Linked DNA regions of Homo sapiens: regions 2, 3 and 4 are each reported to be linked to region 1. Evidence: microRNA targets listed by miRTarBase, many of them from high-throughput screens and not tested one by one. Region 1 holds a microRNA gene; each other region holds the end of a gene's coding sequence. Distances are from middle to middle.

What was found. The annotated mature microRNA hsa-miR-5197-5p reads CAAUGGCACAAACUCAUUCUUGA and lies in region 1 at 2,264-2,286, shown strand. An mRNA with a match to its seed (bases 2 to 7 or 8) in the 3' UTR can be bound and repressed. Matches are read on the target gene's strand: a 7mer-m8 pairs with bases 2 to 8, a 7mer-A1 pairs with bases 2 to 7 and ends in A, and an 8mer does both.
Region 2: the mRNA of PRRC1 is a reported target of hsa-miR-5197-5p. Seed matches in the 3' UTR shown: 7mer-m8 at 1,192-1,198.
Region 3: miRTarBase lists ZNF786 as a target of hsa-miR-5197-5p. The part of its 3' UTR that is shown has no 7-base or 8-base seed match.
Region 4: miRTarBase lists SESTD1 as a target of hsa-miR-5197-5p. The part of its 3' UTR that is shown has no 7-base or 8-base seed match.

What each region holds. Positions count from the first base shown.
Region 1 is chr5:143,677,623-143,681,774 of GRCh38, forward strand. MIR5197 (microRNA 5197) reads left to right here and starts at 2,238; the gene lies at 2,238-2,349.
Region 2 is chr5:127,551,690-127,555,689 of GRCh38, forward strand. It overlaps PRRC1 (proline rich coiled-coil 1), which reads left to right. Exons shown (of 9, transcript NM_130809.5): 9 at 18-3,396. The coding sequence ends at 227. It overlaps LOC124901058 (a long non-coding RNA gene), which reads right to left. Exons shown (of 2, transcript XR_007058924.1): 2 at 3,668-4,000. Among named protein-coding and RNA genes, the nearest start is that of PRRC1, 36 kb to the left of the region's middle.
Region 3 is chr7:149,067,064-149,071,063 of GRCh38, reverse strand. ZNF786 (zinc finger protein 786) reads left to right here. Exons shown (of 4, transcript NM_152411.4): 4 at 1-1,423. The coding sequence ends at 641. Among named protein-coding and RNA genes, the nearest start is that of ZNF786, 22 kb to the left of the region's middle.
Region 4 is chr2:179,106,503-179,110,502 of GRCh38, reverse strand. It overlaps SESTD1 (SEC14 and spectrin domain containing 1), which reads left to right. Exons shown (of 18, transcript NM_178123.5): 18 at 475-4,000. The coding sequence ends at 604. Among named protein-coding and RNA genes, the nearest start is that of CCDC141, 58 kb to the right of the region's middle. RefSeq lists silencers at 2,495-2,695, 3,775-3,975.

The DNA of each region.
Region 1 (4,152 bases):
GACTGGAATGCTGTGGCGGCACATTCCATTTTAATAGAAAGGGTCTGAGGGAATGTGCTGTGCACCTCCAAGCTTGCTCTTATTGTTGAGTACTCCTTTTCTTTTCCCATGTTATTTTTTTCTTAGCTTTTGTTATTACTTTTAATTTATGCCACTTTAAGATCTTAAAATTCTGTGAGTGAGTATGAAGATAACATATTGTATGAAAAGGAATATATTTTAAAATATGTTTTTGACACATTAGAACCTTAATTGTAATCCAATTTGATGGAGCAAGGATCAAACTTCTTGACCCATGATTTGATCAGCCAAGTGGTTTATCTGGGAAGACTTGCTTTAGATATAAAAGGTGAACATTTCCCTCTTAGACTTACATCCCTTATTTCCAACTTGCTATTTAATTTGGATAAAGTTCTTGGTTATTTTACATGTGCTGTTGAATATCTTCAAAACCAAATGGGTTCACTTTCAAAATAGTAAAATGTAAATTTGTTCTCTTAACACTCAGCCTCACAACATTCATACTGTAACATTTTATGTTATTTAATATGGCTTTTAAAACTTACATTAGTAATGTGCTAATGAGACCTTACAGGCTTTAATTCATTACAGAAGATGCAATAAAGACTAATATGAGTAGAGCTTCCTAGGCAACCAGGAATCAGATTTTTTTCTAATGTAAGAAAACTGGTCAATTTTCTACTCTATTGATGTTTGCCATTACAGTAATGAAGCAGGTTACATTTTCTTTGTAATAAGATGATTAATTTGGTTATTGACTTTCTGTTTCAATTTCATGTTTCATTTAAATGATTTGAAAATACAGGTTCTGTATTTTTCCACTACATGCTTGGGTCAGATGTAAAACATTTATTCTATTTGGTTCCCAACTTTAATATCGGAGAGGAATTTTTTTGTTTTTTTCATACTTAGAAGCCATTACACAGATAAAATTATCAATTGAGATTAATAGCATAGAATGTCACCCAATACAAAGGGAACTGGGTATTCATCTCAAAACTTGAATTTGAATGTGGAATCATACAGATAGAAAAATTCTGAGACAGCAGAAGAACAAAAAGTCATCATCTTTTTGTGTGAGTCACTTTCTCCTGAGACCATACCCTACATTTTGGAGGCAGATTGTTTTTTTCAAGCCAGTTACTTTATAGAGATGGGAGAGTGTAGAACTTCAAAATGCCAATGCACATGACCTTCTGATTATATGGACTTGTATAGTTTTCTGAATGTAGGTCTTATACTTCCATAAATTGATGGTTCCTCGAGAACAGATGGCATATTTTATACATCTTTGTATGATACCTAGCAAAGAGCCCTGCACAAAGTAGGTGAATAACAAATGTCTCTGTTAAATAAAGTACCATGAGAAGCATAGATGAGAGAGAGGTAAGGAATGAGGTAAGAGGTTCCAAGGACATGTCTATAAGTAGGTACTTATATTTGTTGTGTACTTTATTTTTATTGAAAGACCCTCTCTAAATCCAAATAGTCATCTACTCAGGTCTGTGGGATACAACAATTCCCCGATTACTTGGCTTAACATTCCTTCCTGCAGAGCCACTATAGGGGTAAATCAGGGATGGTCAAGAGGATTCATTCCTTATACCAACCAGTTATGTAGAATTGGTGGTGATCCCTTGGGCTGCAGTATGGAGAAAGCAGCTCAGACTATTCCTGAGCCCAGTGAAAAAGAGGACAAGATGGCCATCTATGAGCTGGATAATCAAGACAGTCCTGTCTGCTTGGTAGCACGACCCTTCTCCAAGATTTGCCCCTCATCCTTCTTTCAAAGCCCAGATCAAATTCTGCCTCTTCAAGATGGCTTTTCAGATCCCCACCTTCAAGCTAGCACCCTCCCTTTCCTGCTTGTATAGCAAACTATTCTAGCCTTTATTCTCATATTTGTCATAGTCTCCTCATCCATCTATTTCTCTCTACCTACCTAGTTATTCATGTCAATTCCACTAGAGTAGTTTCTCGTGGGGAGGCAGGGATAATCTCTTTCACTTTTCTGTCTCCTATGTGCCCAGTATAAATGGGCTTTACTTATAGGATACGCTTCATAAATGACAATGAAGGAAACTGAACAGCAGACTGATTGATGGAAGGTCACCCAACAGATCATTACAGTGATAAGAGAAAACTGATGGTATGTTAGAGAAGTAGAATGTTCTGTCACTGCAGATTGACCCTGATCTACAGCTAGGGAAGAACTGTATGGGATTCCACAGACAATGAGTATCAATGGCACAAACTCATTCTTGAATTTTTGCCAGTTCAAGAAGAGACTGAGTCATCGAATGCTCTAAATGTCACTTCACCTCATGTTCTGTCAACACAGAGGGTAACTCAGAGTGGCCAGTTCCACTCAACCATCCAAGAAAACAAAACAAGAAAAGCAGACATTAAAAGAGGGCAGTGTTCTGCACTTCACAGGTCTGTGACCTTGGCCAAATTACTTAACCTCTGTAAGCCTTAATTTCTTCTTCCTGTGTAACATGGAGATGATGGTATCTACTTACAGGCAAGAGTTGAGATAATATATGCAAAATTCTTGGCATGGTAGAATATTAATTGAACTATGAAGATGATTGTATCCACTATTCCCTTTTCCCTTCTTGGCTATTTCATTTCCATTCATGTTACTTTGTTTTATATATACACTGCTTTACTGTGTATGAGAAAAATGACTGTCCACTGGTAGAAATATAGCCTGAGGTTTTTTTTGTTTTTAATTCTCTCTCTCTCTTTTTTTTTTTTTTTTTTTTTGAGATAGAGTCTCACTGGAGTGCAGTGGTATAATCTTGGCTCACTGCAACCTCTGCCTCCCGGGTTCAAGTGATCCTCCCACCTCAGCCTCCCAAGTAGCTAATACTACATGTGTGTACCACCATGCCTGGCTAATTTTTTGTATGTTCAGTAGAGACAGGGTTTTACCATGTTTCCCAGGCTTGTCTGGAACTCCTGACCTCGGGTAATCCACCTGGCTTGGCCTCCCATGGTGCTGGGATTACAGGCACAAGCCACCGTGCTGGGCCTTTTTTAAATTATCTAACCCTAGCCCCTGAATTTTTAAAACCACCATGGAACATCACTGGAATGAAAATGGAGACCATGTGACTTCTTCAGCTTTCCAAAGAAAACAGGTTTACTGATTATACGCAGCTAGAATGGTTGGCATAATTGTTATGAATGACAAACCCTTCAATTCATTGATGTGTATGAGTCAGTGATGTTGGGATAAATGTCTTTGGATACACATTACACAGTGCTCCCAGATGTTTATATTCCTTCCCACTCCCTAACCTAATCCTAAAATATTAGCTCTCTAGACAAGAGCATAAACTGAAAACTCATATTTGCTCTTAGGACTCTTTACAATCATTTTCACATGTGATTATCTTGGTGTGTACATAGAGTGGCCATCTTTGTTTACAATGAAGACGCGAAAGCCCAAAGGTTGGCTAATGTAACCATGGAAACCAAGCTAATAAATGGTCAAATCTGTACCAAGAATAATTCTAGAGACTTCAGTTGCTTCAGAGATGGATGAGGTAGGAGTTTTTCTCAGAGGGATGCAGGTCTGTCTGTGGTCGCTTAGTTGGGTTGATTCCCACATAGTATTAATGAGCATATGGAAAGATAACAAAAGCAGCTAACACTTATTGAATACTAAAGTCTGAAGTAGCGTGCCAAGTACTTTCAGGCATTATCTCTAATCCTTATCACAAGTATATGAGGTAGGTACTATTATTAGACCCACTTTCTAAATGAGAAAATAAGCTTGGACTAGTAAGTAATTTGTTTAAGGTCATTCAACTAACAAGTGGCAAAGGATAAAAGTTAAATTTAAGTTTACCTGACTCCCAAGTTCATATTCTTTTTTTTTGAGATGAAGTTTTGCTCTGTTACCCAGGCTGGAGTGCAGTGGTGCAATCTCAGCTCACTGGAACCTCCGCCCCCCGAGTTCAAGTGATTCTCCTGTCTCAGCCTCTTGAGTAGCTGGGATTACAGGTGCATGCCACCATGCCCGGCTAATTTTTGTATTTTTAGTAGAGACAGGCTTTCACCATGTTGATCAGGCTGGTCTCGAACTCCTGACCTCGTGATCCACCTGCCCCAGCTTCCCAA
Region 2 (4,000 bases), 16 Mb from region 1:
ATTTCATCTTTCCACAGGCTCAAAGTCTAACTCCCCAGGACTATAATCTGAGGTGGTCAGGCCTTTTGGTGACAGTGGGTGAAGTCCTGGAAAAGAGTTTACTGAATGTCAGCCGGACTGATTGGCACATGGCATTTACTGGGATGTCCCGTCGGCAGATGATCTACAGTGCAGCCAGAGCGATAGCGGGCATGTATAAACAGCGCCTGCCACCCAGGACAGTGTGAGAGGAGACCTACCTGGGAGACTGAGACTTTCCCCCACTTTTAGCTTGATGTTAAAGAAGTGGTTGTACCTTCCTAAATCGAATAGTCTAAATGAATCCAGTAGTTTTTATCATTTTCCTGTAGCCTGCAATTTTTCTTTCTCTAGAAAGGCATCATGTCATTCCAGGAGACAAAAAGAAACAAATCCTTTTTATAGTCATACCATTTCACCTATCATAGTACTCAAAAAAGAAAATATACAAATCTATTTACAGCACAATTTAATATACCAGATTTATAAGGTGGAAATTCATGTGCAGAGACATTTAACTTAATGCCATGTACTTGATTATTTTGTTCTTTAAAGAAGACATTATTAAAGAACATGTTGGTTGAATGTTTATAAAAGCATGATTTGCTTTGGCTTCATCTCTTTTCTGTCAGTCTTTGACTACTTTTGTATGTGCACACGATCTCAGGGCTGGTGCTGAGCAGCCTGCTCAACAGTCACTATAAGACACCTACTTGTCGGGAGATGTTCCACATTTCTGTGCATGTTTTCAGTAATATGGGCCAAAATAATGGAATTGATTATTTTCCTTTTTGGCCATCACGTACACATGTAATCTGGAAAATCATACCTTTGTCAATTTTAAACATAACTTTTGGCATTTCCCAGATTTATACTATGAACATTGGGGTAATACATTTTATTTTTTCATTGCTATATGACAGCTAAGGGGCAAATGATTCAAGTATATTTTAAATCAGAAGTATTCAAATTATTTTTGTATAATACTGTTCAGTACTTCCAAGAATAAGCTCTGACAACAGCCATTGTTTCTGCTTCCACTCATATTCTCTACACATTTTAATACAGAAATTTTTGAGAGGGGGTTACTTTATTGCTTGTGGGTTAGTATGTCTCTTACTTCAATTAAGGTTACTTATTTGGTTTGCCTTAAGCATTACTTTTTTAACTTTGTGCCATTTGGTCTTTACTTTTTATGGATGTTTTCAAAGAAACTATTTTATATTCAATCTAGTTTATTTAGTCTACTGTATTTCTATTTCGTGGAAGCCTTTTCCCCTCAAATAATATATTATATCATTTTTGGACTTATATAAATGATAATTAAATAAATTTTTTTCTTAATACTGTTGGACTTTGTATATACAAGTTCAAATAACTTTTTCGAAGATAGTTTCTTATATAAATGTAATTTAATTTTTTTACTCTTCTATACAGTTCTTTAGATGTAAAAGAATTAGCACAATCTCTGGCAGTTTTATAAAAGCTGTTGAAGCTCTTGTCCTGCACTGTCTTTAGGTATCATAGGTATCAGGTTTGCTTTGTGTTAATGCCACTTCAAGTCATTATTTGGTTTCTGCTATTTTTTTACCTGAGGATAAGAAGAATGAATATTAAATTTGAATATTAAATATATGTTACTTTCCAAGCACTGTATAATGACTGTTCAGTGAATATCAGACTTCCGTGTCATTAAAAGTCATGAGAGACAGCACAGAGAGGTTATAGGTTGCCTTGGTGTACTTTTGTCCAGGAGTAACAGGGACAGAATACTTTCTTTCTTTCCTTCAAGTACAAGAAGGCTTTCTCTACCATTTGCGTCTACACTTTATTTTAAAAGCTATCCTTTTCTAGTAGTATTTTATCATGGCAATGGCATGATGACAACAACAGTCTTTCATTACAGACTGAAGGGAAGCATGTCCTTACTTAAAATAGTTCTGCTACTTTCCCTCCTATTATAAGGAAATCTTACAGATTCTAAAAATACCTTAATTTTTCTTTGATTTTTATTTTACCAAGTCACAAATGTCTTTTTGATGTTTTGAGAATTGTTCTCATAGAATCACAAATACTGACATTTCATTAGATGATTATTTTCCTAGAATCCCCAAAGAGCAGTGGCAGTCCATGGCTTGGTTGAAGCTAGAAATTTTCCTGCCCCTGGTGACCTGGTAAGCCTCCTGCTCGGAACCGTGTGAGTGGGTGAGGAAGATGAGAGATGGTCAGATGGAAGAGAGAAATACATGAACTGCTCTGGCCTCTCTGGTTCTGTTCTTGGCCCAGAGTTTTTGAAAAGCAGCGGAGCATGACTGACTTCACATGCTCAGCTTTCTCAGCCTTTTGTTTATTTTGTTGTCCTTAGATTTCCCTGTTGTAAAAGGGGCAAGAAAAGTAACTCATCATCTCTAACACACCATGGCAGCTTAGCCAGGTAGTCTTAGTGGTGGTGTTTAGGCATAAGATATGCTGATCATCAGTCTCAGGCCACAGTTTCCTTCACTAATCGTCCAGCTTGAGTGTTCTGTTCTCTTCCTGCCCATTTCCTTGAACCTCCTGCTCTAGCCTTGGCGGAGGGAGAGTGCTATTTGCTTTTGTTCTCCCTCTGTCTTAGGAAAAGCCATCTTTAATATAGTTCTTCACCACTGTTGGGGTTGTTTTGTGATTTTTTTTTTCTTCCGAAGAACTCCTGGTTGTTATTGGATTTTGTATTTTAATACAAATTATTGAATTTTATAAGCTTGTACACAATATTTAATTAGTGTGAAAGGAAACAAAGAATGCAGGAAAAATAATTTAATATCAACCTCAGTTGACAAGGTGCTCAGATTATTCAATTCGGGATCCTCCTTTTGTTAGGTTTTTGAGACAACCCTAGACCTAAACTGTGTCACAGACTTCTGAATGTTTAGGCAGTGCTAGTAATTTCCTCGTAATGATTCTGTTATTACTTTCCTATTCTTTATTCCTCTTTCTTCTGAAGATTAATGAAGTTGAAAATTGAGGTGGATAAATACAAAAAGGTAGTGTGATAGTATAAGTATCTAAGTGCAGATGAAAGTGTGTTATATACATCCATTCAAAATTATGCAAGTTAGTAATTACTCAGGGTTAACTAAATTACTTTAATATGCTGTTGAATCTACTCTGTTCCTTGGCTAGAAAAAATTATAAACAGGACTTTGTAGTTTGGGAAGCCAAATTGATAATATTCTATGTTCTAAAAGTTGGGCTATACATAAATTATTAAGAAATATGGATTTTTATTCCCAGGATATGGTGTTCATTTTATGATATTACGCAGGATGATGTATTGAGTAAAATCAGTTTTGTAAATATGTAAATATGTCATAAATAAACAATGCTTTGACTTATTTCCAAAGTTGTATAGCGATTTTTTTTTTAAATGCTAGTTTATATTGAAAGGACGCATATTTCTTTTTACCTAAATTTGTTACTGGCTGCCAAGAATTCTTGTACAACAGCAACTTAACCACCATCTTTCTAGTGGAACTGTAACATTCACATATACCAGAGTTGCTAACTTCAGGGTGCAAGAACTCAAAATATTTAGAGGAGAGGATACATTGGAGATAAAGGTAATAGGCAAGAATTTAAGGCCTATGGTCATGAGGACACTTCTTGAGTATTGGGTTTTCGAGTAGTTTTATTTCTTAGTTTCAGTTCACAGCAGAATTAATTAAAAGGAGGGAAAGTACAGAGATTTCCCATATATCGCCTTCCCCTACATATGCATAGCTTCTTCTCTCTTTATCAACACTCCCCACCAGAGTGGTCCATAATCAATGAACAATAAGTGGTCCATAATCAATGAATAATAAACAATCAATGAACCTGCATTGACCTAACATCTCCCATAGCCCATAGTTTACCTTAGTTACTCTTAGGGTTGTACATTCTTATGGGTTTAGGCAAATGTATAATGACATGTATCCATCATTATAATATTGTAGGAGATTTT
Region 3 (4,000 bases), not on the chromosome of region 1:
GTGGCAAGGGCTTCACCAGACAATCCAAGCTCACGGAGCACTTGCGCGTGCACAGCGGGGAGAGACCCTTCCAGTGCCCAGAGTGCAACAGGAGCTTCCGCCTGAAGGGGCAGCTGCTCAGCCATCAGCGCCTGCACACGGGAGAGAGGCCCTTCCAGTGTCCGGAGTGCGACAAGCGCTATCGCGTGAAGGCCGACATGAAGGCCCACCAGCTGCTGCACAGCGGGGAGATGCCTTTCTCCTGTGAGTGCGGCAAGGGCTTTGTGAAACACTCAAAGCTCATCGAGCACATCAGAACGCACACGGGAGAGAAGCCTTTTCAGTGTCCCAAGTGTGACAAGAGTTTCCGCCTGAAGGCGCAGCTGCTCAGCCATCAGGGCCTGCACACAGGGGAGAGGCCTTTTCACTGCCCTGAGTGTGACAAGAACTTCCGGGAAAGGGGACACATGCTGAGGCACCAGCGCATCCACAGGCCCGAGAGGCCCTTTGCCTGTGGCGATTGTGGGAAGGGCTTCATTTACAAGTCTAAGCTTGCGGAGCACATCAGAGTACACACAAAATCCTGTCCTGCTCCAAATGAACTGGACATTAAGAAAAGGCTCAGCCAACTGTTTGCAATGATAGAGGCCGATTGGAGTTGAGGCAGAGTGGGACATCCAAAGCGTTGAGCAGGATTGGTATTGCCCAGGAATCCACAGCAACAGTAGCCAGACCCGCTGGTAGACGGGTTTTAGGAGCAGGTATCCTTCTTTGAGCAAGAGTGTCATGCAAGTTAGGAATATGAAGAACCACAAAGGATTTTCTCTTCAGAAGCATCACCAATTATATTTCTTTCTTTTTTTTTTTTTTTTCCAAGATGGAGTTTTGCTCTGTCACCCAGGCTGGAGTGCAGTGGCGTGATCCCAGCTATATTGGAAAAGACAGCATTATAAAACAAGGACATAATTTTATGAAAAAGGAGGCATCTGCAAACGAAAACAATTTCTACGAGGTTATATGTGATTGTTAACATTTTTAAGAAAAGGTGCACACAGAAATCCAGATAAGATGTGATTACCTTTGTGCATTTGTATAAAAATATATGTGTGTAATTATAAGGAAGTTCTGACATTTTAAAAAGTAATTGTTATAAAAGTAAATTTAGGCCAGGCACAGTGGTTCATGCCTGTAATCCCAGCACTTGGGAGGCCGTGGCAGGAGGATCACGAGCCAAGGAGTTTGAGACCAGCTTGGGCAACATGGCAAAACCCTGTCTCTACTAAAAATACAAAAATTAGCCAGGCATGGTGGTACACACCAGTAGTCCCAGCTACTCCTGAAGCTGAGGTGGGAGGATCGCCTGAGCCCAGGGAGGTCAAGGCTGCAGTGAGCAATGATGGTGCCACTGCACTCCAGTATGGATGACATAGTATGACACTGTCTCAAAAAAAAAAAAAAAAAAATTTGGGCCAGGGGTGGTGGCTCACGCCTGTAATCCCAGCACTTTGGGAGGCTGAGGCGGGTGGATCACAAGGTCAGGAGATCGAGACCATCCTGGCAAACACAGTGAAACCCTGTCTCTACTAAAAATACAAAAAAAAAAAAAAAATTAGCCGGGTGTGGTGGCAGGCACCTGTAGTCCCAGGAGGCTGAGGCAGGAGAATGGTGTGAGCCCAGGAGGCGGAGCTTGCAGTGAGCCAAGATCAAGCCACTGCACTCCAGCCTGGGTGACAGAGCGAGACTCCGTCTCAAAAAAAAAAAAAAAACAAATTTAGTATCTCCCAAAGGAAGCTTGGCAAGTCCTTTTCATTCTCTTTAGAATTTATAGAATATAGCCTGGCGTGGTGGCTCATACCTATAATCCCATTACTTTGGGAGGTCAAGGCAGGAGGATCACTTGAGGTCAGGAGTTCAAGACCAGACTGGCCAACATGGTGAAACACCATCTCTACCAAAAAGTACAAAAATTAGCCGGGCATGGTGGCATGCACCTGTAGTCTTGGCTACGCCGGAGGCTGAGGCAGGAGAATCGCTTGAACCCCAGAGGTGGAGGTTGCATTGAGCTGGGATTGCACCACTGCATTCCAACTTGGGAGACAGAGCAAGACTCCATCTCAAAAAAATTATAGAATATATAATTAATATATAAAGATACAGAATAATATATAATTATAAATTCCTTTTTTTTTTTCTTTGAGATGGAGTCTTGCTCTGTCGCCCAGGCTGGGGTGCAGTGGCATGATCTCGGCTCACCGCAAGCTCCACCTTCCGGGTTCATGCCATTCTCCTGCCTCAGGCTCCCAAGTAGCTGGGACCACAGGCGCCCGCCACCACGCCCAGCTAATTTTTTGTATTTTTAGTAGAGACAGAGTTTCACCGTGTTAGCCAGGATGGTCTCGATCTCTTGACCTCGTGATCCGCCCGCCTCAGCCTCCCAAAGTGCTGGGATTACAGGCATGAGCCACGGTGCCGGCCTTTCTTTTCTTTTTTTTTTTTTTTTTGGAGTCTCTGTCAGCCAGCCTGGAGTACAGTGCCATGATCTTAGCTCGCTGTATCCTCCACCTCCCAAGCTCAAGTGATCCTTCTTTCTCAACCTCCTGAGTAGCTGGGACTAAAGGCGCACGCCATCACGTGCCACCATGCCTATTTTTGTATTTTTAGTAGAGACTAAAAATACAAAAAATATAAAATGTGGGCCAGGCTGGTCTTGAACTCCTGACCTCAGGTGATCTACCCACCTCAGCCTCCCAAAGTGCTGGGATTATAGGTGTGAGCCACCGTGCCCGGCCTATACTTCGCCATTTGTCTCTTAACACGGGTGCCCAAGAAGCTGCTGCTTGGGGGGCTGTATTCAATTAACACTTTTAATGTTAACAGGTGTGGACCATCAAGAGATTGTCTCTCCCTGGCTGCCGAATTCTCATTCTTAGAGAGGCAATTTGTTAATTGCTGAACCATCACCTGACATTTCTAGTGGGTCGGGAGAGAGCCCTCTGCTGCCCTGTTGATGCCTAACTACCTGTAACAATCTGATTATTGTAAGTTTTCCTGTATCCAGTATCACCTCCAATATTTATCAAGGAGTTGTGTGAAATACCACCTCACAACCAGATGAAGAATTTTATCACCACCTCCTCCAATTCCTCATGAGGGAGAAGTAGGAATTGCTCTGAGCCTAAGGTAGAAACCGTTCCTGAAATGTTGAAAACCGTCATTGTGAGTAGGTGAGTGGAGTGGTGGAGTAGTGAATCACCTGTACAATGGCACTGTCAAAAGACAAAATTACAACACATTTAGTTTAAAAATCTTAATTGGCTTATTTGGTATTCTAGAATTGAGCAACACTTCATCCCATGAAACAGAATAAGTGGCCCGGCGTGGTGGCTCACGCCTGTAATCCCAGCACTCTGAGAGGCCGAGGCGGGCAGATCACCTGAGGTCAGAAGTTCAAGACCAGCCTGGCCATGGTGAAACCCTGTCTGTACTAAAAATACAAAAAATTAGGTGGGTGTGGCAATGCGAACCTGTAATTCCAGCTACTCGGGAGGCTGAGGCGGGAGAATCGCTTGAACCCGGGAGGCGGAGGTTGCAGTGAGCCGAGATCGTGCCATTGCACTCCAGCCTGGGCAACGAGCGAAACTCGGTCTCAAAAACAAAAACAGAAAAACAGAATAAGTGTTTGGATGAGCCAGCCAAGGCGGGTTTTTTTTTTTTTTTTTAAGAAGGAGTCTCCCTCTGTCGCCCAGGCTGGAGAGCAGTGGCGCTATCTTGGCTCACTGCAACCTCCACCTCCTGGGTTCAAGCAATTCTGCCTCAGCCTCCCAAGTAGCTGGGATTACAGGTATGCGCCACCATGCCTGGCTAATTTTTTGTATTTTTAGTAGAGACGGGGGTTTCACCAGGATGGCCAGGCTGGTCTCGAACTCCTGATCTCGTGATCTGCCCACCTTGGCCTCCCAAAGTGCTGGGATTATAGGTGTGAGCCACTGCACCCGGCCCGCGGTTGGTTTTATGGACAGAA
Region 4 (4,000 bases), not on the chromosome of region 1:
TACAGTATCTTTGAGAGTAGAATAAAATTAATAATTTTATCTGTTAATGTACCAAAAAATGTCATAACATTAAAAAGAATATTTATTTTGCTTGCCAGCTCTATAGACAAGTGGTGTCCCCAGCCGGTAGCACTCAAGTACCTGTATAAATTTTATGTTTGTGCATCCTTCTGGACCCACATATTTCCAGTGTTTCATTGTTCAATTTGTTGCTATTATCATAACTACACATGATATAACCTTTATACCATCAATATATTTTTCTCATCATGTCTTAATGTATTTTATGCCATTTTAAAAAATGTTTTTCCTGCTGAATTTCCTGCTCAAACAGTATGATCACCGATGAACTGATATTTACACATAGGCTATCTCATGTAGATTTTTTATGGTAAATTTTTGCTTCTATTTGTATTCACTGCAGTTAATAGATTTGTATTAATCTGAGGTTTTTCTGTGTGTTTTGATTTTTAGAACCGAACAATATTTTGGGAGTCCAAGTGACATGGCTTCTACTGCAGAAAACATCAGAGACAGGATGAAACTAGTTAATCTCAAAAGGCAGCAGCTGAGACATCCTGAAATGGTGACCACAGAGAGCTAATAGCTACCAGCTACCTACAGATTTGCAGTTCATAATCCCGCATGTTGTCAACATACTACAGCATTAGCCACCACACCTTAAGATGCATTTCACAGCCAAAATAAGTCTCATTTCTTTTCATGACACATTTCTCTTTACATGTTAACACCTTGCTACTACCAAGGCATAATTACTTAACATGCTTCGAGGCTGTAGATTCCAAGTATCTTAAAAGAAGGAACTATAAACATTGCACTGAAAACTTGCTTTAAAGCTTTACCTGACCTGTCAGTTTGTAGACAAACAACTGATAATAAGCTTTGAATGGTGCTAATAAGAGTAGGAATTCTCTCTATTAAAAAGAAAAAAAAAAGTTGCCCTTCCTCCACAGGTGATTTAGTAAATTTAGACAGTAGTTAAACTCTTGTTAGTAGACAGTGGTGTCCTCAAAATTTTACTTTGTAATTCTTCAGAATTGATTATTTTTATTGTGTCAATACAGAGAAAGCCTTTCAGATCTTTGATATATCATAGTCATTAAAAGACCTTTTCCTATTTGTATTGATAATGTATTAAAAGTTGTTTGTGCTTAATAAAAGACTTCTTTAAACATCTTATTTAATTTAGTAGTTACATCCTATTTCCAAACATGAGTGCCTTATTTAAAAGGGCATTCTTAGGACTGTGAGGATGGTTTAATATTTGTTTTTTCATGGTGGTTGCATGTATTTTAGACAGGAAATACATATGTAAGCATGTGTATATAATAAATAAGCATGTTTTATCATGAAAAATTATTGTGAACAATTTAGATCTTTAAGAACTTATTAATAATGGAATACTATTTCTAATTTTTCTCTTTTTCAACTTGAAAAATATTCTCAAAATTATTAACTACCCTGAAGATACTTTGTCTTTAGGGGAGGAGGGCTGAGGAAGAAGGCATACATAATTACTTCAGTGTAATCCTTTATATCAGAGTAATCTTTCAGGAACTAAAATAGCAATTGTTAATAAAATTTAGTTTCTCATTATAGTCTAAAAGCAAAATAAATTCTGAAGTAGTCCAATAACAGAACTGTATGACCCCTTTAGAAATAAAATTTATCATGAAATGCTAGTTCTTTTAAGTTTGTATTAAGTTTAAATGGTAAAATGCATATAATTTAAATTTTATGTATTTTTATTTCAGAACATTTTTTAAAATATTAAAAATTATTTTTTAGTCTTGTAGTCATTACAAAATTATAAACGAGTTGTATACTGGTTCCTTTTTGAGGTCTACAAACATGCTCGTGTATCTTCCAATGCAAAAAAAAAACCCCTCCCTTTTAACCTGCTAGTTTTTCCAGCCTTCTTCACTGACTGACAGACTTCTTGGAGAAATCCACATCCAGTGCCCCTACATCCTCATCACTCACTACTCAGCACCTTGCAGTCTGGTTTTACACAGCACTCTACTGAAACTGTTCTTTTGAAAGTCAGCAATGGCCTCCCAGTTACCAAACTGAATGGTTTTTTTCTCCGTCTGAATCCCTTACCCTTTTCTCTGCAACATTTACACCATTGAGCAACCTTTCCTAGACAGTGTCTCCTTCCTTGAAGATGCTATCCTCTGAAATAACTGTGAGTACAGTCGCATAACCCTAATTTAAGATGTGCCTGCTGAACATGTGCTCTCTCAGATCCTGTCCTCAGAATGCTTTTGGCTCTTTTCTCGGTATCTCATCCTTAGAGTTTTTATTTTATACCAATGTTCTGGATTACATACCTGGTCCAGAAATCTAGACTTGTACTTCTTTTTAATTGCCTAGTTGACATTTCAACCTTGATTAAAGATTGACAATATTTATCACCTTTTCCTCCTGGAACAATTTAGGTTAATGGTGCAGCCTTTTTTCCTAGTCAAACATGCCAGGAAGTTCAGGGCAAAGTTCAACTGCTCCCTCTTGTCTTATGTGGTCACTGCTTCTGAGAACATCCAGGAAGTTCTTTCTATACTTGAATCATCTTCTCAGTCCTTTGGGGCTTTACTGCTATGAGTATGAACTTTTGTGATTATTTATTTCAGTCTTCATGATGGTGCTATCACATTCTACAGTTGTTTATGTCTGTACCCAGTAAGCTCTTTTGAGGGAAGGAATCTTGTCTTCTCCTATTCCCAGTCTTGCTCATGCATAACAGATGCCCATTCCTCCTAAATATGAATGCTGTATTATAGGCATTAGTAATAATCCCTGTTACATTGCAGTCTGAAGTATGTTTTAAACATACTTTTTTAAAGTTAGAACTGACTTACAAGTGAATCTATTCTTAGATTCTTAGATACTAACTACTTTAGATATTTAGTTATACTCAATAACTAAATATCAATACTCAATATCTGTTTCTTCTGAATTTCAGAGTAGTTAGAATGTTTTTCTTAAGACTTTGCTAGAAAGGAACTGGTTTGTTAGTAATTCTGCCATCAACTCATGGAGTTATAATTGCCAAATGAGTTAATTTTTATATACCTTAAGCTATCTTGCCTACAAAAAGTAAAATAAGGCAGGATTCATAAATGTTACTTGTAAATTGAGTGTTTCACATGAGGCCAAGTATGATTTTAACATAATGAATATCATTGCTCCTCATCTGTAAATTTGCTGCTGCTTTCATATGTGTATCTGTACATAGAGTTATGAATGAAAATCCAGTAATGCCCTAAAGCAACTTTCTTCCATAGGGTCAAAGCTCACTTAAGGTAAACGTGTGAAAAAAGTGACTGCAGTGTGTTTGAAACCACAAGCTGTTTCTATGTCATAAATTAACATCAGCTTGCAAGTCTCTGAAAGAACCACTCATTTGTAATTGGTATATATGTCACAACCTCCCACATTCCTTTAGCCCATCTCAGGGAATTATTGAAACGCTGGCAGGGTTAGTTTCATTTTGTTTTGGTTTTTTTGGGTTTTTTTGTTTGTTTGAGGATTTTTTTTTTCTTTTATCATTTGTTTGCTCCTGTGTAAGCTTAATATATAATGGCAGTTTGGCATCTGTTCTTCGCACATGTCTAACCCAGCAGAGTTATGCAAAAATGATGACTTCATTTTAGGTCAAATTGGCTTTGTTCCCAGTCCTCATTGTTGGTCACTTTGTTCAGTTCTGGTGACTCATTGGTGATGTTGATGAAACTGCTCAGCCTGCCAGCTGGGATATTGATGGCAGGTCTAGGCTTCATTGTTAGGTAGAAGATTGAATACTTCTCACTTTATACAAATTTACATTGGCTATTGCTCCCATGTGTTAGCTAGTCTTAACATGTTTGTTATTTCGTTATCTTATTAGCTGACATACGGAGTGGTATTATTAGTGTCGTACTCCTTAGCGTGAGCATGACAATTAAGTTACCTTACTAACAGTGATGAGTAAACCATA